Regions from separate parts of the Homo sapiens genome. Here all the other regions are linked to region 1. The links come from fine-mapping of genetic effects on gene expression. A gene starts in region 1. Each other region holds a variant in brackets. All regions are shown on one strand. Distances are between the middles of the regions. Region 1 holds the start of TGFBR3 (transforming growth factor beta receptor 3). Region 2 overlaps TGFBR3 (transforming growth factor beta receptor 3). Region 3 overlaps TGFBR3 (transforming growth factor beta receptor 3).

What was found. PIP is the estimated chance that this variant, and not a neighbour inherited with it, causes the effect.
Region 2: its variant is fine-mapped to the expression of TGFBR3 in whole blood (INTERVAL, PIP above 0.99).
Region 3: its variant is fine-mapped to the expression of TGFBR3 in pancreas (GTEx, PIP above 0.99).

What each region holds. Positions count from the first base shown.
Region 1 is chr1:91,881,321-91,889,501 of GRCh38, reverse strand. TGFBR3 (transforming growth factor beta receptor 3) reads left to right here and starts at 3,351. Exons shown (of 17, transcript NM_003243.5): 1 at 3,351-3,624. RefSeq lists silencers at 3,085-3,224, 3,575-3,654, 3,665-3,874 and enhancers at 3,017-3,779, 3,780-4,543.
Region 2 is chr1:91,677,588-91,685,768 of GRCh38, reverse strand. It overlaps TGFBR3 (transforming growth factor beta receptor 3), which reads left to right. Exons shown (of 17, transcript NM_003243.5): 17 at 1,912-5,426. The coding sequence ends at 2,030. Among named protein-coding and RNA genes, the nearest start is that of CDC7, 180 kb to the right of the region's middle. RefSeq lists enhancers at 951-1,030, 1,510-2,013. The variant A/TAA (reference allele first, on the strand shown) is at 3,344.
Region 3 is chr1:91,800,824-91,809,004 of GRCh38, reverse strand. All of the region lies in intron 2 of TGFBR3 (transforming growth factor beta receptor 3), which reads left to right. Among named protein-coding and RNA genes, the nearest start is that of TGFBR3, 81 kb to the left of the region's middle. RefSeq lists an enhancer at 4,970-5,239. The variant G/A (reference allele first, on the strand shown) is at 3,421.

The DNA.
Region 1 (8,181 bases):
TGATGTAATTTCTTGTGTTTTTCCATATCATCTACTGAAACTAAATAGCTCAGAATTAAAAAAAAGAGCCCTTTTATTTTGCCAGTCTATAAAGCTTCTGATGACAGGTAGAAGAACCTGGTGGTTAAGGACTTAGGTTTTGAGGTCGGTGGATGTGAGATTGAATCGTGGACAGGTTTTGAGGTCGGTGGATGTGAGATTGAATCGTGGACAAGATCTCAGTTTGTATAAAGGCATGTATATCGGCCTCATTTATACATATTCTTAGAGGGCTGTGAGAAGTAAATGTGTTTATATGTATAGAATTTAGTACCCATGGCCAGGCGCAGTGGCTCATGCCTGTAATCTCAGCAGTTTGGGAGGCCAAGGCGGGTGGATCACTTGAGGTCAGGAGTTCGAGAGCAGCCTGGCCAACATGGTATGAAACCCCGTCTCTACTAAAAATACAAAAATTAGCCAGGCATGGTGGTGCGTGCTTGTCAATCCCAGCTACTCAGGAGGCTGAGGCAGGAGAATTGCTTGAGCCCAGGAGGCAGAGGTTGCAGTGAGCTGAGATTGCGCCACTGCACTCCAGCCTCGGCAGCAGAGCGAGACTCTGTCTCAAAACAAAAACAAACAAACAAAAAAGAATTCAGTACCCACGCTGGCTCAGATGTTGATGGTTACTGTTGTGAATCTGGCTCTACGGGGACCAGTCACTTCATCACTCTTTAAAGACAAGACACTCCTAAATTATCTACCAGGCCATTTTATTTAGAAGGCCTTAACATGATTGATACATTTAATTTAATTTTATTTTTTTGAGACAGAGTGTTGCTCTTGTCCAGGCTAGAGTGCAATGGCACCATCTCAGCTCACTGCAACCTCTGCCTCCTGGGTTCAAACGATTCTCTTGCCTCAGCCTCCCAAGTAGCTGGGATTACAGGTGCCCGCCACCATGCCTGGCTAATTTTTGTATTTTAGTTGAGATGGGGTTTCACCATGTTGGTCAGGCTGGTCTAGAACTCCTGACCTCAAGTGATCCACCCACCTCGGCTTCCCAAATTGCTGAGATTATAGGCATGAGCCACCTCACCTGGCCGATGCATTTAAATGTGGGATTAAATATTCACACCTAGTTCAAGTGTTCACATCTGTACTTGAAACTAAAACTTGTTAACAAGGCATAAATACTGTATTAGTCTGTTTTCATGCTGCTGATAAAGACATACCCGAGACTGGGCAATTTACAAAGGAAAGGTTTATTGGACTTACAGTTCCACATGGCTGGGGAGACCTCACAATCATGGCAGAAGGTAAGGAGGAGCAAGTCACATATCACGTGGATGGCAGCAGGCAGAGAGAGCTGGTACACGGAGACTCCTGTTTTTAAAGCCATCAGATCTCGTGAGACTTATTCACTATCATGAGAACAGCACAGGAAAAACTCATCCCCAAGATTCAATTACCTCCCATTGGGTTCCTCCTAGGACACATGGGGATTGTGGGACTTACAATTCGAGATGAGATTTGGGTGGGGACACAGCCAAACCATATCAAATACTGTTTAATTTGAGTCTAGGAGAAATCTTAAGGCCTTAAACTTAGACTTTATAAAAGCAGAGGCTAGCTCCATCTGGACTGTTTATTCCTTCAGAATATTATGCCTACTTGTATTCCCAATGCCTGACTCAGGGCTCTCCCATAGTCAGTGCTCAATGAATATTGGTAAGGAAAAAAATGGTTCAGTGAGGAGATTTTTGCAGTAATTCAGGTGACTGATGACATTTGACCTTTGTGAATGAATCTCCAATTCTGCAATTGGGTGGATTCTCTGCCTATAGGTACAAGAGGAAGAGGACGAGAAATATTTCCTGTTCTCTCAATAACTTTCCAAATAACATGTCATAAGAAGCCTCCTCATTCTACTCTCCAACATATTAAAAGCCTAGGATTGAGCCAGGTGCAGCGGCTAACGCCTCTAATCCCAGCACTTTGGGAGGCCAAGGCAGGCGAATCTCTTGAGCTCAGGAGTTTGAGACCAGCCTGGGCAACTAAGTGAGACCCCCGCCCTGCCAACCCCCTCTACAAAAAATACAAAAAGTTAGCTGGGCGTGGTGGCATTTGTCAGTAATCCCAGCTACTCAGGAGGCTGAGGTGGGAGAATCGCTTGAGCCTGAGAAGCGGAGGTTGTAGCGAGCTGAGATTGAGATTGTGCCACTGCACTCCAGCCTGGGCGACAGGGCGAGACTCCATCTCAAAAAAAAAAAAAAAAAAAAAAAAAAAGGCATAGGTCCATAGCCCTTTAGAACTGGAAGAAGCCTTCTAGGCCAAGCCCTTCATTTGAACTGAGCCTTGACGGGTATTAGCCGTTAGCCATTTGTGGAAGGTCGCACAGTAGTCAGGACTGGAAGTCTGGTCTTTGAAACCTGTCAGTCCACGGTCATTTCACCTGCCTGTTTGTAAAACAATGTCCTGTTACTTAAGTATACTTTTTAATAAGAAAAACTGGGTGTAAGCAAGAGTATCAGAGTGGTGTTCTGGTGCCAGCAGTTCAACTTCTGCAGCGTGTACTTCACAGGCACAGGTACTTAGGACGTCGCACAGGCACAGGTACTTAGGACGTTGCCCCGCCGAGACTGTCGTTCATATCGCGCCCACCTCCGGGTAACGCCGGTAATGCTGACCTAGCTCCATTATTTGTATTAATTTATTTAGCTAGCAGGGGGAACGGCTGGGTAATGCAGTCTCAGCTGCTGGAGGGGAAGAGGCAAGACTCCGCCGGCGCCCACCATCAGAGCGTGACAACAAGCGGGACCGGAGGTTGGGAAAAAGCACAGGGACAGAATGAATGTGTGCATGGGGGAGCTCTGCTGGGGAGAGGGCAAGAGGCTGTGATCAGATTATCTGAGGTTTCAGAACTTTTATATAAAGACCAAGGAACCAAATGAAAATCCAACTCTTCCAGGGAGCCCTGGAAAGTTCAAAGGACCTCGTTTGAGGGAGCGAGTCCCCGCAGCTCGTGCCCACGTCTCCCTCGCGCTTCCCCCAGGACAGGGGCCGCCCCAACCCGGGCACGCTGAGCCCGGCCGCGCCCCTAGCCCCTTCTCTCTCGGCCTCCTCGTCCCGAAGGGAAGCACAGGCTCGAGCAGCATTCGGGGCTCATCCATCAGCCGCGGAGGCAAAGGGGGAGGAGAGAGGAGGCGGGAGGCGGGAGGCGGGAGGAGGAGTTTCTGGGCGGCCGAGAGCCCCCGGTGGGGCCGGCGGAGGAGCGCCCTTCCCCCCGCGCGCTGATTGCTGTGGCGTCCTGCCCGTCCCCGCCCGCGTGTGTGCGAGGGAGGGCGAGTGCGCCGGGTCGGCCTGATGGGGGTAATCGAGGGTTTCGGGGACGCCGAGCGGCACTTTCCTCTTCCCAGCGAGTGAAGGAGGGCAGTCGGCGGCTCTCGCGCCCCGGCCACTTTCCCTGCGCGATTCCCGGAGCTCCCTGCAGGAGGTGAGAGTCCCCAGCGGGTCCGGATGGCGTAGTTTTGCCGCGGCGCAGCAGCTGCCGGAGCTCGCCGCCGCCGAGCGCTGGGCGGGGAAACTTGCCGCCGCTTTCCTCCAACTTGCTGCGGGTGGATCTCCGCTGGACACACCGCCTCCGAGGTACGTGCCGGCCCAGCCCCGCGGCGCTGCAGCCCGCCCGGGCTGTGGGCTCTGCAGGCTGCGCGGGTGCCCGTCGGCGCGGCGCGGGCTGCCAGTGCCTACTTACCGGCCAGGGTCGCTCCAGCCGCCAGGACCTCCGGCCTTGGGAGGGAGGCGCTGGTGGGGCGGTGTTTACCCTCCGGGGAGCAGGCACCGGTGGCCAGCGGTGCGTGGGCAGCGGCCGCACGGGGCAGGCAGTGCCCCCGGCGATGCGCAGTGCTGGGGAGGAATTCTCCACGCCCGCCCTCACTCTTCCTCTCCGCGGGTCCTTCTGACCCCTGCGGGGCGCGGCGGCCACTTCCCTCCGGGCGCGTGACAGCTTCGGTGGGAATGGTTTGTTGTGGGTTCGCAGTCAATTGCCGTGGCCCAGGCTGTGGCTCCCGGACTCGTGCACGGACGCGGTTTGCGTTCCCCGCTGGCCGCGCCCTCAGGGTGCCTTGCGGGCTGAGCCGCAAGCTGCAGCTCGGCCCCCCCCCGCCCCGGTTTATTTTGAAGGCTCTCTTCTTGTATTCATTTGGTTAGGACAAACTTGGAAATCTTGGACTGTCGCTAGAAGAATCTGCTTGCAGACTTGATCTTATTAGGGCATTTGCCCCGCTTTGCAGAATCGCATAGTGTCAGGAGCCGACGTGTCAAGCATGAATTACCTTGGCAAAGTAGAACTTAGTGGATTTGGTGTCCTCACGAAAAGCTGGAAGAAGAAAACCGTTCCATTTCCCTAGCTGTGAAGTGAGGATAGTAGTACTTGCCCCGTAAAGTTGCTGTGAGCATCTAATGATTTAATGTGTGTGAGGTGCTACAACAGTGCTTGGCACCGAGTAAGCACCGCACGGAGGTTAGCGCTGCTTGCCGCTAGCCCTGCGGTGGCAGGATAGGAGCGGCGAGGGCAGAGGATAGTAGGAGTGACAGGCTGTGCTGGGGAACCAGGCGTATTCTGAGTTTTATGTCCTTCCGAAGAAGTGAGCGGTTTGGGAGAAGTCTCCACAGGTAGTAAAAACACACGTCAAGACCGTTTCTTCTTCCTGAATGCAGAGTGCAAACAGTTACTTCAGTGTGAACTCAGTTGTTTCTTTTGGATAATAATAACAGCTAACGTTTTCTAAGCCCATACTGTGTGCACTTAATCCTCACAGCATCTCTATGGGAAAAGCACTATTAATAACCCTATTTTACAGATAAGACACTAGAGGTTAAGTTACTTGTCCAAGATCATACATAACTTTCTGTTAGTTCTGACTCCAAAGCTACCTTCCTTCCTCAGCGGAGAGCGGCAAGTGCAGGCCGATTTGTGTGTACATAGATTTGTGTGCATAGTCCATGCATCTTCTCCCATCTTTCAGCTTTCTATTTGAGCTGAACGCATATCTCTTGAAACACACATAAGGTATCTGTGATGAATTTAGGCGATTTTACATACTTATGAGGGTGCCCAATTAAAGTTCCTCTGAAACTGGCCCCAAATAATTATAAATAGAACTCTGACTTGTATTAATTAACATGGAAATTTTTTTTTTTTTTTGGTGACAGAGTCTCGCTCTGTCCCCAGGCTGCAGTGCAGTGGTGCGATCTCGGCTCACTGCAACCTCCACCTCCCGGGTTCAAGAGTTTCTCCTGACTCAGCCTCCAGAGTAGCTGGGACTACAGGCGCGCGCTACCACGCCCAGCTAACTTTTGTATTTTTAGTAGAGACGGCGTTTCACCATGTTGGCCAGGATGGTCTCGATTTCTTGACCTCGTGATCCACCTGCCTCGGCCTCCCAAAGTGCTGGGATTACAGGTGTGAGCCACCACGCCTGGCCAACATGGATCTTTATTCTTAATTTCTTTTATTAATTCTCCAGACATTGTTGATCACCATTACTTGGCTTCCTTAGGAAACAGCTTGGGGTTGGCACAGGAGGCAGGGAAATAATTCTTACCCCCTTAAGGGCTATTAACATGAAATTGATTTCATGCCATTGTGTCAGTTAAAGGATGTTGCTCTATTTCTTGCTGTTCTTTGCTTTTGGCTTTATTTCTGCATTGTTTAGTGTTTCAAGGCTTGAGCGTTTTTTTTTTTTGGCCCTTCAGTTTGACATTTGTCAACTTTAATTTTTCCTGTTTTGATGGAATCTGACCGTTACACGGCAGCTTTGCCTAACAACTGTTGATTCAGCTCATGTTTTTAAATATAAAAATCACCAACATAGTTTTGAATCCCAGCACTTCAAAGGCAACCCGTGGGGAGTTCATTGTTATTTTGAATATTAGTCAATAGGGGGAGCATAACACACTGTTGATATCTATAAGGCGCATAAACCCGTTTTTAGAGTATTAAACATATAGTTTGAAAGGGGAGGGCAAAATATCTAGCAAAATAACTAAGTTGCTTTTGGAGTTTATAATGGAGGACTAGATTTAATTTGAACTGATTAAGAATGACCTTGAGGACAGGGCCTGTATGTTGAATATATGTCAAGAACTCCATGGTGGCTGGACAGATAGATAAACACACATATAGTTTTTTTTCAATTTGTTTCCTTAAGTGGTGTGTAGGCCAGGCACAGTGGCTCACACCTGTAATTCCAACACTTTGGGAGGCTGAGGTAGGAGGATCACTTGGCCAAGGAGTTCGAGACCAGCCTGGGTAACATAGTGAGACCCCCATCTCTTTAAAAAGTGAAGTTTGTATGTAAACTAATTTTGTGTGGTTTGAATAATATTTCAACTTACCTGGGAGAAATGGAAATCCAGAGGAATTTGTTGTGAATCCTTTTGTAATGATCCTCATTTGTGTTTTGTAGAAAACTGAATATAATGAATTTGTTCTCAGGGAGGTTGGTGTGTTCACAATCCTGTCATCATCTTTCATTAACATCTTCTAAGTGCAAGACAATAGGGGATCAGTAATCCTAAATAACAGCAGTTCTATTACTGTGAATTCCTCAGAGGCTTACGTTAATATTCAAGTATAGTAGTAGTTCAGATGTATCATATTTGATACTAGTATAAGTGTGATGTGTCTATGAATACTCATACTTGTAAACATAAACAATAAGAATATGCTTGAAAAAATCACACTTGACATTTATCTATTTATTTATTTATTTTTTGAGATGGAGTCTCTCGCTCTGTCGCCCGGGCGGGAGTGCAGTGGTGCAATCTCAGCTCACTGCAAGCTCCACCTCCCAGGTTCACGCCATTCTCCTGCCTCAGCCTCCCCAGCAGCTGTAACTACAGGCACTCGCCACCATGCCCGGCTAATTTTTTTGTATTTTTAGTAGAGACGGGGTTTCACCGTGTTAGCCAGGAAGGTCTCGATCTCCTGACCTTGTGATCCGCCTACCTCAGCCTCCCAAAGTGCTGGGATTACAGGCGTGAGCCACGGTGCCTGGCCAAACTTGACTTTTAAAAAAAGTTTTTGGCTGGGTGTGGTGGCTCACGCCTGTAATCCCAGCATGTTGGGAGGCCGAGGCAGGTGGATCACTTGAGGTCAGGAGTTCGAGACCAGCCTGGCCAACATGGCGAAACCTGATCTCTACAGAAAATACAACAATTTGCTGAGCGTGGTGGTGCACACCTGTAATCACAGCTACTCCAGAGGCTGAGGTGGGAGGATCCCTTGAGCCCAGGAGGTGGAGGTTTCAGTGAGCTGAGATCGTGCCACTGCACGCCAGCCTGGCAGACAGCGAGGTTCTGTCTCAAAAAAAAAAAAAAAAAAGGTTTTCAATTTTTGTCTGTAGTTTTGTAGGCCAGTTTCCTTTCTTGTTTCTTGCGTATTATGTAGTATTTTTTTATTATTTATTTATTTATTTATTTTTGAGACAAAGTTTCGCTCTGTCGTCCAGGCTGGAGTGCAGTGGAGTGATCTTGGCTCACTGCAACCTCCGCCTCCCAGGTTCAAGAGATTCTCCTGCCTCAGCCTCCCGAGTAGCGGGGACCACAGGTGCATGCCACCACGCCCGACTAATTTTTTATATTTTTCGTAGAGACGGGGCTTCACTGTGTTAGCCCCGATGGTCTTGATCTCCTGACCTCATGATCCACCCGCCTCGGCCTCCCAAAGTGCTGGGATTATAGGCGTGAGCGACTGTGCCCGGCCCCATATTATGTAGTATTGATTTACCTTTATTTCATTTACTACGTTAGGGTCCCATGGATCCTATTTTAAAATAACTTTCAAAATTAGTTGAGTCCCTTCTTTTTAAATCTTAGCATTGCGCTTATACTACAGAGTGGCATTTATTTAGGATCTCATTTAGTCTTCTATGCTTTGCTCTAGTTTACTCGAGTAATTCAACAAACACTTATAACCTCCTACTCCCTACTAGGCTATGGTTTCTGGTCTTGGAGCTTGGCAAATTAATTGTCCTTATTCAGTGCTCTGATGACTGGGGGCCAAAATGCCTTCAGGTTGCTTAGGGCTTTCTTACAGAAAGCCTTTCGTTGGCTTGAAGGAAAGTGTTGTTCCATTGTTTTTAAGACTCAAAAGAATTAATTTTTCTCTCTTGCATGCAAACTTGGTTGTGACTTGTAAAA
Region 2 (8,181 bases), 200 kb after region 1:
CTCTGGGGAAAGTGAATTTTTGGCAGAAAGTTATTGCCATGGAGGCTAATTTCCCCAGCCTTAATTATACACACACATGAAGAGTAGAGGGCAGTGCTGGGGAGGGTCCAAAACATAGGTTTCCAAAAAAGTCAAAAGCAGTGTTTCAGCCGGGCGTGGTGGCTCACGCCTGTAATCCCAGCACTATGGAAGGCCAAGGTGGGCCGATCACGAGGTCAGGAGATCGATACCATCCTGGCTAACACAGTGAAATCGTGTCTCTACTAAAAATACAAAAAATTAGCCAGGCATGGTGGCACATGCCTGTAGTCCCAGGTACTCGGGAGGCTGAGACAGGAGAATTGCTTGAACCCGGGGGGTGGAGGTTGCAGTGAGCCAAGATCATGCCACTGCAGTCCATCCTAGGGGACAGAGCGAGACTCCGTCTCACAAAAAAAAAAAAAAAAAAAAAAAGGCAGTGCTTCTCCGCTTCTCAGGAATATTGACCCCAGTCCCCTATCCATCCCGCCAATCCCAGAAGAAAAGATAATTAGAGGAAGTACAACAAGGGCCAAACTTACAACAAGCACATAAATACTTTGAGGTTGATGCAAAAGTGTGTATAGCTGTGTGGTTCATGAAAGGGGTGACAGGAAAAGCTGTAACCAGACCCAGGGACATGAGCCAGTTCTACATTTTGCAGAACTGCTTTTTTCACAGAGGCTTTTGAGGGGCCCCAGAAAGAGAATGGAAGTAATGGGGCCAAGTTCCTGCACTGGAGGGCAGGGCCTTTCCTCGAGTGTTTTGTTTTAATGAAGCAGCTGGAAGGGTTGCTTATCTCCGGCTGATAGATGTGTATTTCAGCATGACAGGAAAGAGGAGGCTCATTCATAAACAGGCCTGGCCCTCTGGGGTTTCCCACATTGAAGGAGGGGATGCTGCTTACAAGAAGTTTATGAAGTTTATGCTCTGACTTTTCAAAGTAAATGCAGTGTTTTTTATTGGAGAGCCCTGATCGCTTTTCCCTACCTAGAGCCATTTTTTGAGGGTTGCACTGAGGCCGGTTTTGCCGAAGAGAAGACTAACTCTAGGGCCTTTTGCACTGTTAAATGCAAACCATGTGTGTGACTTGAGGTTTCCTTCCTCTCCAAAGCACTGCACATTTGGCACGATGAATGGCTTTAGCTAAAATGCAGTGGGGTGTGTAATGAAAAGTGGGATGCTTAAAGTGTTAGGAGATACTCACACTGCACCCCACAGGGAACCTCAGTGGGGAAGAGAGGCCATTCGCTGGCAACTGCAGTCCCCATGTGCAAACAGCTAAACCCCTTCCCCAAAAGGTTTTTCCAATAGCAGCTATCCCCCACCCCGGTTTCTCAGGTAATTTATCTGTTTGGCACACAAGGCTCTCTCTACTGTAGCTAGGACAAAGTCTATATTTCACTCCTGTTTTTAACAAGTGCATTCAGAACAAGGCTCCCAAACTTCCAGGGTTCTCTTAACTACAATTGAAAGGTCACACCCTCCAAATCCTACAGTGTCTTTATGAGAGAAGATGGACAGTGTTTCCTGAATACAGGTGCTGGTCAGTTGCCAGCTCACACAGACCAAGTGGTGGTGATTTCATCAAAGGTTGTGGACCCTGAAATCCAGGGACTTTGTCATCAACTCTCAGGGGTCTTAGCCACTAGAGCTGCCTGTCAGTCAGCTGTCTTCTTTTTCCCATTCATGATGCTTTAAAAATAAAACAACAAATAGCAAAACCTTATTTTAGAAGGTATTCCAGCCATCTAGGACCTAGTCTAGTTGCTTCTGCCCTGGTTGAGAAAAATATCAGTTAAAATGGCAAATGCGGAATAAATGATCTTTTCAGGAATGCACATACATAATATGCGTCTTTCTCTGACTCTGCCTTTTCTTTATTAACTGCAGGGGAGACAGCAGGAAGGCAGCAAGTCCCCACCTCCCCGCCAGCCTCGGAAAACAGCAGTGCTGCCCACAGCATCGGCAGCACGCAGAGCACGCCTTGCTCCAGCAGCAGCACGGCCTAGCCCAACCCAGCCCAACCCGGCCCAACCCAGCCCAGCCCAGCTCAGCTCAGCTACTGCCAAGGGCAGGACCAATGGCTGAGCCTCGTGTCCAGACTCAGAGGGCTGGATTTTGGTTCCCTTGTAAAGACAGAGTGAATTTCAGTATAAAGATCACCCGTTGTATTCACCCCACACCCAGGGCTAGTATAAACATGACCCTGGGCTTCTGTACCACACTAGAATTCATGTGAGAAAGCTAAAATGGTGGTCTTCTCCACCAGCCCCTCACAGGCTTGGGGGTTTTCAATGTGAAACACATGCCAGTTTTTAAAATGCTGCTTTGTCCAGGTGAGAACATCCATAATTTGGGGCCCTGAGTTTTACCCAGACTCAAGGAGTTGGTAAAGGGTTAATAGCCAGATAGTAGAACCAGTGAGGAGATGCGGCCAAAGATTCTTTATATCTGAACCAAGATGTAAAACAAGAAATGCTTTGAGGCTTTCTAAGCGATCCTCCTGTCTAATTTGCACCTTTGTCTGGATGCACACTTCTGACCTTGCTGCCACAACCTGTGGGGTCTGATGTGTCCCTTGATGGGTGCTGCCCTCAGGGACTGCACCCTGACAAGTGTTAAGGCAACATTCCTTTCTTGTGCCCTGGGCCAAAACCAATGCTGATGACCTTATCAGCTTCCTGTTTCTTCCCATACTTGCATACACCACTGCAAAATGTCTTAATGCAAATTTTGTATTTCTTACAGGCCTACAGAAATTGAAAATGACCAAAATCAGGAACCACAGATTTGTGCCCATTCCTAATATTTTGTTCTGCAAATTAATGTATAATTTGAGGTGAAATTCAGTTATAAAGTCAAGGACGAATTTGCACAGTGATATATTTCTATGTGTATGCAAGTACAAGTATATAATATGTCACCTGGCACATTCATTTTCTCAGTTGAAGAAGAGAAAATTTGAAAATGTCCTTATGCTTTTAGAGTTGCAACTTAAGTATATTTGGTAGGGTGAGTGTTTCCACTCAAAATATGTCAACTTAAAAAAAAATAGGCCCTTTCATAAAAACCAAACTGTAGCAAGATGCAAATGCATGGCAAATCCTGTCGGTCTCCAGTTGGTTATCTGAATAGTGTCACCAATTCCACCAAGACAGTGCTGAGATTGGAAAAGGGCACTCATTTGGATTGCCTTACTTCTCTTGCCTTAAATATATCCCATATATTTAATATGTCAAAAAGGGCTTGAGGTGAATTTCATTAAATGGAATAATATGATGCCACTTTGCAGCTAAAATAAGCTCAGTGATACCTCCTTGTT[A/TAA]AAAAAAAAAAAAAAAAAAAAGAATGCCAGGGGGGAATTATCATGCTAAATTATTTTACTGCTGAAGATAGCTTCATTGCAAATTATTCTTTTTCCAGAATTTCCCCCAAACAACTTAGAATTCCATAAGTAGAACAAGATAGATTCTACCCCCAAAATATTCATAAGCAAATCCCACTGCCCTTAAAATAAGGAAGTTATGCCTGGTTGTCTGTGAATGGAACCTCAGTAGGTAATCCTGATGAAGCTTAAAACCTTAGGGCAGTGTCTACATGGGAAACAAGTATGTGGAAATTGACAATCATTTTTACCAAATCGTTGAGTAATAATATGACTTACCTGATAGATATACACATTCAATAAGGAACATTTTTTTTTTTCAATAAGGAACATTTTAACTAAAACATTACTTTAGGGCTGAGATTTCCAGGCTATCTACATTGATCTACTGAAAAATTTCTAGATTTCCATATACAAACGAAGAAGACATGAGTTTAGAGAATTTTTTTCCTTTAATTTTTTTTTAACAGAAGGGTATCAGAGTGGAGGACCTAGATTACGCTACCTGTGTTTGAAAATATTGCGCTTTGCCTAACCTTCGGTGGAATGTATTGTTTCAGCATATTCTATGTATAAAAAAGTTTAAAGATGTCTTCAAAGAAGACTAGAGTCTTTAAGTCACTTATAGCTATATTTTACTACAAAATTTGTGTATAAAGATATATTTAAGTGTTTTAGATAAATTTAAGTTACTCCATATGAAATGTTTAATTTCAGCTACTGTGAATTCTTTCGATCAGTCCTTTGCTTTTTTAAAAAATCTTTTCCATCGTGTTAAAAAGAAAATTAGCTATTAGGAGATATTAAAAGATTGATGTCTTAGAAGGACAGGGTTAAAACCTTCTGTAATATATTTAAATATATATTTTTAAGAGAGATGCTACATTGCCAATGATTTTATAAATAATTTAAAATTAATTTACAAATTTATAGATGCAAACCAAAAGATCTTTTTAAAAGAGAGAGAGAGGAAAAAAATCACCTTTTATTTGTTTGGGTCTCATTGTCAGAATTATTATTCAGATCAAGAAATCTGTGTCGATAAAACCTAATCTCATATTGGAGAGTGAATGTCGTTAAGTATTTCTGAAATGTTTCTAAAAAATGAACATGAAAAAAATAAGGTATTTTCTCCCTAGCTTCTCATTACAGTATTTCTAATTGCTTCACACTTTACAGTTTTAATACAAAGTACAAGCTCTACTTTTATAACGTGTACTACAAGTTTCTTTAAAAGTATTGTTGTATTTCAGCTGAACTCTTGTATCTGCAGTCTTTTGTTATTTCTGCAGGCTACACCCTTAATTTGCAGAGGCCATTTTGTTGTTTGTTTGATGCTGAAGCTGTTGTTAAAATGCCCCAAACTCCAAGGCAGATTGTCTGTATAATACGCTATAGCTTTTCACCATGTGGTGTTTACCAGCTGTTACTCTGTATTTTAAAAAGCCAGAGATTTCTTCTGTCTAAACTGTTTCTATAGCATTTTCTAAACAAAAAAAATGGTTTTTTTCTTTGCCTTGTAATAAGATTGTAAATCCATTTCCTGCTTGTGTTCTTAGTGGGCATGATTGTGAGTGTGTGTGGGGTGCTCACACGCGTGCCAGTCTTTTTGTACTGTAACTACCTCATGGTTTGAATGATGATTGTACTGCTGGTTGTGTTAACAGAGCACATTTTGTTGGGTGAGTCCTATGTGATTTTTTTCATGTTTGTTTTATCTGGGGGTTGTTCATGAAACTGACAGATGTTTTTCTAAAAAGGACTATTATCAGTTTCCAAATACAATACTTCTCTCTTCTGGTTTTTCCTGAATGAGCCTGATTTTGTTGCTGGTTTTCATCATCTATGAGGGTAAAACGAGTACCCTTAAAATCCCTGTGGCCAGTTTGAACACCCCTGTTGTATTCTTTTCTCTGTTCAGTGTGTCAGCTATTTTGTGAAGATGCTTAGATGTATAGTTTTGATAACCACAGTTTTAAATCTTTTATCTGTGCATAATAAAAAGATATATATCAGTTATTAATATGTGTCTTGTTATCATTAAATTCTACCCTAAGGCTCATGTAACTTTTTTCACTGTGACTTTCTCCTGAATGGATCGTCTGCTCCGTGTTGATGAGGAAGTGGGAGGAGAAAGGCTAAGAGGTCCAGAGCAGAGGGAAGGGCGGATGGACTAGAAGAAGAGTGCAGCAGGAGCTGTCGCTCTTCTCAGAAAAACATGGCAGGAGACTTGGAAGTGGGTGTCTCACCCTGGAAACCATTCCTGGGCCTTCTGTCAATCTCCCAGAGTCAAAGAAAGAAACATAATATACATTTAAGGTCTACTATTTTCAGCCCCTTCAAATACCCCATTGCTGCTTCCAGCATTCCGTATCTCCATATGGTACCACCGTCTTCCAGTTGTCCAAGCCAGAAACCTGGGAATCTAACTACAGCCTCTTTGGCTCCCCTCTTCCCAAATCAATAAGTCCGAGTGTTATTCTACCTCTAAAATGTCTCTTTCTTCAAACCACTGACTTATTCCTACTCTGACTGTTGTTACACACTGCTCAAGAGCCATTGTCTCTTGAGTCACTGCAGCAGCCTCCTAACTGGTATGCCGACTTTCCATTTTGCTCCCTTCAATTCTTTCTCCACCATGCAGCCAAAGTAATCCTAAAAAGACTCCATTTTGAGGCCTTTAGGTAATTGCCCCATTTGCCTTCAGGATACAGTTCAGATTCCTAAGCATGGTTCCGAGGAGGCTAATCTGCCTGCTTTCCCAGCTACTTCTCTCACCTCTCCGGAGCTCAGTTCTATTTGGCATCCTCACCCCCAGACAAATTTGTAATGAAAAAAGTTCTCGTTCAGTATCAAATATTACATTACAGCATTGAATATGCATTTACAGGCCACACTCCCCTTTTGAGATTTTTAGTGACTCAGATGATTTGGCATCAAGGCCAGCAGCCCATCCCTCACATGTTACACAGGTGGGTACCCACAGAGCCGGAACAGTGTTAAGCTCCATTTTACAGCTACGGTGCCCCCTGCAACCAGCTCCTCTTAGGATATGTGGGAGTAATTGGCAGGTCAATGAATTTTTTTTGCCATTAAACTCTCCTTGTGTCTACTGGAGTCAAAACCTGGGTGATTAATAAATGGGCTTCAGAGAGTCTGTGAAGTGGCTGGAATTGTATGTAGGATTTTATTGCAGCTATGTCTCGGCTGTTGTTTTTGGTGAGAGTCCATAGGCTTTTTGTAAGAAAAAATTATCTTTCTTGTTCACACAATATATATATATAAAATGAATGCAAAGAATACAGACATGTAGCAATGAAAAGGCCTCCATAATCCTCCAACTTGAATATAAGAATACCGATTTAGTGTATGTGTTCCCAGATGTTTCCTTAATTCATATCAACATGTCCATGTCATTAAATAAGATTGGATTATGGCCCGGTGCAGTGGCTCATGCCTGTAATCCCAGTACTTTGGGAGGCCAAGGTGGGTGGATCACTTGGGGTAAGGAGTTCGAGACCAGCCTGGCCAACATAGTGAAACCCTGTCTCTACTAAAAATACAAAAATTAGCGGGGCGGGGTGGCATGCGTCTGTATCCCAGCTACTCAGAAGGCTGAGACACGAGAATCTTTGAACCCAGGAGGTGGAGATTCCAGTGAGTTGAGATCATGTCACCGCACTCCAGCCTGGGTGACAGAGGAAGGCCCTGTCTCAAAAAAAAAAAAAAAAAAAAATTGGATTATAACAGTTGTGACTTGCTTTTTTCTTTTTTCTTTTTTTTTTTTTTTTTTTTGAGACAGGGTCTCATTGTGTCACCCAAAGCTAATTTTTATATTTTCAGTAGAGATGGGGTTTCTACTAAACCCAAGGCAAATTTTTATATTTTTAGTAGAGAAAAGGTTTCACCATGTTGGCCAGGCTGGTCTCGAACTCCTAACTTCAAGTGATCCACCCATCTCGGCCTCCCAAAGTGCTGGGATTACAGGCGTGAGCCACCACGCCCAGCCTGTGACTTGCTTTTTTCATATGGCATATCTTTCTCAGGGCTCCTAAGATGACTGCTGATCATCATCATTTTCTTATTAGGCTTAACTTAAATTGCCCAAATAAAAATATGGTTCTCATAGGAAGTGAAATACAAAGATATTTGTTAACGCTACCCTTCCTACTCCCTCCAGTCACTTACCTAGAGGAGCTGATGTTAACAGCCTTTTTTCAAACTCAAACATATTGAAACGTGTTCATGAATATAGAAGTTTTTGTTTCGTTTACTAAAAATGGGATCACAATATACATACTCTGCAACTTGCCTTTTTCACTTAACATCGACCTCCTGTAGATTATTAGATACGGAACAAATTTCATGTTTTTTGGTGGCTGCATAATATTTTTTACAATGAATTCAGCCAATTCACTAGTAATGACATTTTAGTTTTTTGCCAAGATATTCTGCTGCAGTTAATATCCTTATATATTATGTTCTCACACTCCAATGCTTTAAAGCAAAAAAAAAAAAAAAAGTGACAGAATTATAAAAATTATAAAGAGGAAAAAGAGGAACTGACAAATTCATCACAGTAGGATATTTTAACATATCACTCTCAGAAGTTGACAAGTCAAAAATATTTGGATATGGAAGATTTGAACAATGTAATTAAGCTTGATTAAGATCCATACATAGAATCCTGTGTCCCCCCAATTTGACAATTTTGTATATACCACTCCTGGAACTATAATGGCATTCTCAGCAAATATCACAAAATTTAATCATACTGA
Region 3 (8,181 bases), 80 kb after region 1:
TCAGTTATTTTGTATCTGCCAAATTCATAGGGTAGGAGAAAAAAGATCTTATTTTCTCCCATCCTTCAAACCTTCAGATTTGTTCTTGGTCTCTGTTCTGAGCCAATTAGGCAGTAACATCCCATAAATTCTTATCCCCTCCAAAATGAATGCTGTAGCCAGTGTCTCCTTCTGTTTAAGCTTCCTTCTTGTGAGAAGAATAGGGACAGGTGCACCATATTATTGGTCAAAAGTAAATCAGTGCTCGGTGTGGTGACTCACTTCCAGTACTCTGGGAGGCTGAGGCAGAGGCAGGTGGATCACCTGAGGCCAAGGGTTTGAGACCAGCCTGGCCAACATGGTGAAACCCCATCTCTACTAAAAATACAAAAATTAGCCGGGTGTGGTGGTGCATGCCTGTAATTCCAGCTACTTGGGAGGCTGAGGGAGGAGAATCACTCGAACCCAGGAGGCGGAATTTGCAGTGAGTTGAGATTGCGCCACTGTGCTCCAGCCTGGGCGACAGAGTGAGACTGTGTCTCCAAAAACAAAACAAAACAAAATACCAAACAAAGTAAATCAGAAGAACTGTTGGCCAAGATGATGCCAACTGATTGTCTTTATGGATTGATGGAATTCCCTGGAGGCAGAAACATGGCCTGTTCTCGCCTTTGGGAGTTGTACTTCCAGAATGTGCTCAGAGAACAGGAATTTTTACTCTAATACTGTGCATAGTTTAATTTAATTAAAAAAATTTTTTTAAAGAGATGGGGGTCTGGTTATTTTGCCCAGGCTGGTCTTGAAGTCCTGGCCTCAAGCACTCCTGCTTTGGCCTCCCATAGTGCTGGGATTACAGGCATGATTACAGGGAGTACATGCCCAGCTGTAGTTTTATTTTAAGTCTTTCCAGTGCAATTCATAGAAATAATTTCTGGGGAGTAATGCTAGGGAGTAGTATAAGAACATCTTATCTTAGATATTTTATTAATCATTCTAAAAGTTTTTAGAGAAAACAGTTTTTGATTGGAGAAAATGTTCTCATTCATTTATTTCTCTTCCCCTCAAGGGACTTTATGTCTCTAATAGTATTTGAAGTTTGTAAAGCGTTTTCACATATAGTGCATCATTTGATCTATAAGTCAAGCCTGTCATAGAATAAGAGATCATGGAATGCTTAAAACCCAGCTCCTGTATCTCCTGGTTCACTATTTCCCGGTGCTTCTGTAATACAAGGACACCTCTTGCTATGTCCAGTGGTGACTTCTGAGACATGCCACTGCTTCACTTCAGGTCATAAAAACCATGAAACATAACAGCACCACTTCCTCAGAGGGCTGCAGAAATCCCCCTCTGTTGGCACGTCCAGATTGTATAGTGGTATCTTGTTTAGATGGAAGAGTATGTGCCTTTTATAGCTTGGCACTTCCCAACACTTTGAGAATTTGGATTCCTAAAGAACCTGTGCCCTTTGTTTCCTTTTGAACATTTGAAAACACAATTGAATACAGGAAATTCTCCAACATGGTTGCTCCATGATTTCAACACAACAATACACAAATATGCACTGGCTTTTGGCCCAAAAAGTTGGTGGTTGACTTCTTGGAAGAGGGTTAGTTTGTTAGGAGGAAGGTTTGGATGTAGATTTTGCTTGGAGGGTGAAAGAAACCATGATAAGATATGCCTAAGAGTTGTGCTGTAGAAAAATCTAGTTTTTTTCCCCCTGAGAAATCCAAATTACAAGTTTTAGGACTTGTCTACCTTTTTCCTACTAGGGATAAGCTTCAGCCTGAAGCCAGGTTTTATTGTTGAAAAACCCAGGTAGGAGCTGTGGTAGAAGCGCCCTCTTTGGAGTTTAATGGTGGTACATTCCACCGCTCCATCCCCAAGGCGCTGTAGTTCCAATGAATTGTAATTTGAGATGGTACAAACATGAGCATATGTTATGTACACGTCAGGCGTGTTTGTGAGCTCAGGGCATTCCAGGTGTTTTTTTCTTGGAGCTTTGTTTTTGCGTCATATCCTGTGTTGGTAACATTCCTTCTCATGAAGCTCGATTGAAGTGAGGCAGTGCTATTGGCTGAGAAATCATCCTGGGTGCCCTTTCTTACAGATTCTTGCATCCCATGGGGGTAGAAAGGATTTTCAGCCCAAGGGCAGAATAGATCCTGTAGTACCCAGTCCCACAATCTGTGGGAGTTTGTCCCTCTTTGCAGCTGACAGCATTTCAGAATTCCCTGTGGGACAATAACAAAAACCTTATTAGCCAATGGTGTCATTAGAATAAAATCTCCCCACTGCGATGTCTTGGTCCCAGCCTATAATGTTACCCCTTAATTCCCTCTGCATCTTTACCACTTTTATTACAGCTGAACACACGCTCCTCATTAGAACCCTGGGTGATATGGGGAATCAGAGTGCTGAAAATTATGTGGAATAGGTACCAGATGTTTGTGTCAACTTGGTATGCATTGGTATTTAGAATGCTTGAGGATCACATTTATTAAATGTGAAAATTACTTACTATGTCTTCTCCAAAACATTACCCCCCCCGCCAGTATTTTTGTCCATGTTGCATGAGGTGTGATATTAGTAATTTCTTTTGGCACTGATTAAATTTAAAGTCTGTGCAGCAAATGCATCTGTTCCCAAATGCTTTGTCTGCGTTCTGTCGAGTTTTGGAGCTGGCCCACCGCCAGCAGGGATGTGGGGGTTCTGTAACTGAGATTGGAATGCTGTGTTGCAGCTAAAGGACATAATGAAAGGGTGAGTCCATTTGATTTTTTTCTTTAAGTGGAACTGGGAATTTAGACATTGATGTTATAGCGAGATCTTAGGAACGTTTCCCATGTGTCCAGATAAGCAAGCATTAGTGAAAAGGATGGAGGAGGGCATTTGGTAAAATGAGAAACGAGTTTCATTAAGTTCATGAAGTCTTTTAAGTCAACCAAAGGTGATACGTGTGAACCGAGCAGTTTATTTTATTTTAGTAGATATGAATGAATGTTTACATTTGGCCTATGCATCTGTTCACCCAGTCCTGAGGCGAGGAACTGGAAAGTACAAGGCAGAGGCAGGTGGTGCTCTGCCAGGGGAAAAGTCTGGAGCTGGAGTCTCAGAGACCCAGGTTCAAATCCCCTATTGCCACTTCCTGCTGATGTGTTTCTTAGCCTCTCATGAGCTCCAGTTTCCCATCACTCTAAAATGAGGGCATTAACACTGTCTTCACAGTGGTATTGTGAGAATCAGAAACATGTACAAGATGTGTGGCCCCTAGTGGTGTGGTAACCATACATATGAAGAGTTAACCCCCAGCTTCTCACACAAGGCAGCGGCCCAGGGAGCCACCATGTGCTTCACAGTGTGGCCTCAGGTGGCCCAGCTGCTGAGCACCCGAGCGGTGGGGGCCTGCTTTGTGAAGGAGGCTGGTTTGGCAGTGGCCTT[G/A]GCAGTGTGGCCGTGGTCTGGGCCACCTGGGGAGTTTCTCACCAGAGTTTATTTGAATTTGTGCTGTCTTCAGGTCAGTAAATATTTTTGTCAGTAGAAGTAGCATCTTGTGGGTGAAGGGGGCTGTGCCTCTGTGCTGGTGGCCGAGGAGAGTGTACCAAACAGAAGAGCAGAGCCTGACTTCAGTTCAAACAAGACACGACACCCGGCAAGATTTTGAGATCAGATTTCTCGAGTAAGCCAGCAGGGGAGGATTAAACTCAGCTCACACTTTGAGTCCAAGGAAAAGTTAGATTTCTTTGGGAGCTACCCTTAAGGAATCTTGTACTCGTCACATACCAGATGCCCAGAATGAACTGAAATATCCAGATTGGGAGGCACCAGTGAGGATTGTCTCTGGAGGTGAATCCATATGGACATTACTGCCAGGAAGCACTTTTCTGAAATACACATTCTACCTCTGTGTGGCTCACAACAGTTTACTTATAGTGGGTTATAGAGTTTCTGTGAGGCTTTGGATGAAGTATCTGCAACATGCCTTTTCATGATAGAGTATGGTGTGAAGTGAGCACGCGTGTGTGCTTATGAGCATTGTTGCTTTCAGGTGTGTTCTTTCGTCATCGTCCACGCCCTGGTTGATCCTTACGTGGTAACACAGCTTTTGCTGTGCTGCTGATAAGGAGCATCATCAGAGCATGTCACTCACTTGGCTCTTGACTGCAGGGAAGAGATTGCGTAGGGAAGACGGGATGTGGGTTTTCAGCCGTGGCCACAGGAGACACTCCCAGCCTTTTGAGGCTGCCGGTGAGGGCCTACAGTAGCAGCTCCAGAGCTCACAGGTCACCACAAAAGTGAGCAGATGAGTCAGATGGGGTTTCGGAGCATGTTTTCCTGGTTTCCAAGCCTTCGTGGCTGGGAGGTGCTATACTCGGGCCCCATGGTGGTCAAGTGAGAATCTGAGCCACTGTGTTAACTCAGGCACTTGTGCTAGAGCCTGTGGGGTGGATCATGCTGTTCCCAGGTGGAAGCCTTCCTGAATGGAGCTGGCCCTGGCATTGTGCAGACAGATTGCGGAAGGAACCACTATGAGGCCAAGGGGGAAGGATGGGAGACAGGTTCATGAGCTGGCTGTGGCAGAGGGAAAGGGACAGGAAGGCTAGGGCCTGACCCAGAAGTGGCAGGATGAGGCTGGGGCTGTGGTGTGCCAACGGAGAGATAGAGGATTGTCCTGCCACCTGGAGAGAGGGGATTGGCCAGAAGAGTGTCCGGGAAGAGAAGACAAAAACAGATTTGTGTTTCCTGCTTTCTGTGACAGTTGAAGGTGGGGAAGCCCCAACTGGGACTTGATTCTTAGCAACCAAAAATGCCACCTCCTTCATTTCATGGTTGGTGTTTTTTTTTTCTGCCCCTTTTAGTATAAGAGTGAGGCTTTGGCTCTCAGGTAAAGAGTGAAAGCAGGAAGTCTGAGACAGACAGTCCCTTATTGGCACAAAGCCCATGCAGCATGCATCACCCCATGGTTCTTCCCCATTTCTCAGCGATAATTGAGTGTCTGTTTTGTGCCAGATACTGTGCTGGGGTGAGGCAGGCAGCAGCAGACAGAGTGGTTGGGTTCTGTTCTTTCGTGGTGTTTGCAGTCTTTGGGAGCATGTAGATGTGAAACCAATAATTGCACAAATAATTATGTACATCTCATCACAGGAAGTGCTGTGGAGAGAAACGGAGAGTACCATGAGAGTATGAAAAAATACAGATCTAACACAGTGAGGGAGGTTTGGGGAGCTTCCTTGAGAGATCAGTAGAATGAGCAGGAGTTTGTCAGGCCATGGTGGTGGGAAGGAACAGAAACGGTGGGGAATGTGTTCCTGGAGGAAACCTTGCTATTCAGAGGCTCCTTTGGGACAAAGGTTGGCACTTCTGATGAAATAAAAGAAGGCAAGTACATTAATTAGGGTAGGTTAAGCTACAAATGTCAGAAAACCCAAAATAACATTGGCTTATATAAAAAAAAGAGTTTACATTTGTTTCCTATTAAAAAAAAAAAAGCAGTTCAGAGCTGATCCCGTGGCTCCATGTTCATCAAGTACCCAGGTGGCTTCTCAGTTGCTGTGCCCTCCTCAGCATGCTGCTTCTGTCTCATGGCCCCAAAGGCTTGCTCTAGTGCTGCCTGTTACATCCACATTCCAACCAGCAGTCAGAAGGAAATGGCAGAAGAACTGACCTCCTTCCCTTCATACAGGAAGCTGCCAGCTGCTAGCGGGATTGGGAAACATAGCTTTCGTTCTGGGTGGCTGTGTGTCCAGCTGGCACTTGAAGAAAGGAGAATGATGGCTATAGGGAGACAGTGAGCACTTCTGTGCTTCACCAGAATGGCCAAAACACGGGAGCAAGTGTCCGAGGAATGAGAGACGGGGCCGTGGCAGGAAGCAGGGCCAGATCTTGGAGGGCCTTGTAAGTCACGTTGAGGTTTTGGGGCTTCATCTGGACAGCAGAGATGGAGTGATAAGTCTTTTAAAGCAGAGAAAAGCAGGATCAGACTTGGGTTTTTCAGATCAGTTTGGCTGCTCTATAGAAGACATTTTGGTGGAGATAAGAATTAAGAGCATCTTGCAGTAATCAGGGAACGAGAGACGATGGTGCCCATGGAGATGGAGAGGAGGGGTCAGAGTTGAGTGGCCAGAGAGAGAATCCATTGGGTGAGGAGAGGGAAGGGGTGATGTTGGGGCACCTCCCCCAGGTTGGTGCCAGGTGTACGTAGGAAGAGGCTGGTGCCATTTACTTAGGGAGGGAATGAAGGAGGAACAACAGGCACGAGGGGTAAAGATCCTGAGTTCTGCATGTTGAGATTGGGTGTCCATGAGACAAAAGTAGATGGTGAAGGAGCTGTTGAATATTCAGGCCTGGAGCTTAGAAAAAGAAGTATGGGCCAGGCATGGTGGCTCACGCCTGTAATCCCAGCACTTCAGGAGGCCAACGCAGGTGGATCACATGAGGCCAGGAGTTCGAGACCAGCCTGGCCAATATGATGAAACCCCATCTCTATTGAAAATACAAAAATTAGCTGGGTGTGATGGCGGGCGCCTGTAATCCTAGCTACCTGGGAGGCTGAGGCACGAGAATCGCTTGAACCTGGGGAGTGGAGGCTGCAGTGAGCTGAGAGCGCGTCACTGCCCTCTCGCCTGGACGACAGAGCGAGACTGTCTCAAAAAAAAAAAGAAAAAGAAAAAAAAGGAGAAATAAGTAAGTCTGAGATGGCCTGGAGTCATTTCTGTAAAGAGATGAGAGTTGAACCCATGGATGTGTTTGAGAAAATCTATGGAAAAAGGATAGTGCACTCCAGGAAGGCCTGGCAGGCATTTTACCTGGAAGGCGGCGATGGAACAGCTGGTGGCAGAAGAGCGTCTCTCCAAGATATTCAAAGGAAAACTTCATACAATCACACTGCCTCTTTCCTTTCTTGGCCAGAGAGGCTTGTTTTTTACCCAAAGGAAACCCTCTCCCCTGATTCCTACACTGTGTCTGTTCTCTTAGGAGAGGACTACTCTACCCCATACTTAGAGTTTAACCTACGTCCTTTAGCCTGGGTGTTTTCACAGGGACTTTTTGTCCCCTCCCTTAAGTCTTAATTTTTTTCACTTGTACATTCTGTACCCCTTGCAAACTTATCCAGTTATGTTTTTCAGGATAAAATTCCTAGCGGGAAGTTGCTGGGTCAAAGGATGTGTACCTTTTGTGGGGCCTTGGATACCACTGAAAAATTATACCAATTTGCTCTCTCAGCAGCAGTGTGATGCTGGCACACTTTTTGAGGAAGGTTTCTTAAGGCATTTCTGGGCTTAATTTTTTTTATAAGCATTGCCTCCCTCTCCCAACTTTTCTTTAATGAAAAGTTTCAACATGTAGAGATGTTGAAACCATTGTACAGGGAACATTTAGATTCCACAATTAGCATTTTGCAATAGTTGCTTTATCAAATATCTCTCCATCTGTCAATCCATCTTATTTTTTGGGAGGTATTTCAAAGTAAGTTACAAAACGGTAGATCTCACCCCTAAATCTATGACCACTTTTTTATTTTCACAGAAAGTGTTGGCACAGTAGCCCAGGCATTGGGCTGGATGTTCACCGTACAATGCTTGGTCACCCTTTCCCTCTCCTCACCCAGTGGATTCTCTCCCTGGCCACTTAACTCTGTCCCCTTCTCTCCATCTCCACGGGCACCATCATCTCTCTTGCCCTGATTACTGCAAGGCCGGGCACTTCAGGACCCTGCCTCCTGAGAGAGAGAGCCGCAAGGAGGGCCAAGTCTGAAGCTTTGGGTGACTGGGGCAACCTTGAAACAGTTACTTAAGCACATTGAGCTTACTTTGCTTTCTTTAAAATGGGGTTAGTGCTGCTTCCTTGCAATGTGTCAGAAGGATATGCAGCACCTAGCATTGCATAGTGGGCACTTAATAAATGGGAGCAGTCTCTCTCTCTCTCTCTTTTTTTTTTTTTTTTTGAGACAGAGTTTTGCTCTTGTCGCCCAGGCTGGAGTGCAATGGCGCGATCTTGGCTCACTGCAACCTCCGCCTCCCGGGTTCAAGCGATTCTTCTGCCTCAGCCTCCTGAGTACTAGGATTACAGGTACACGCCACCAAGCCCAGCTAATTTTTGTATTTTTAGTAGACACGGGGTTTACCATGTTGGCTAGGCTGGTCTTGAACTCCTGACCTCAGGTGATCCACCCGCTTCGGCCTCCTGAAGTGCTGGGATTACCGG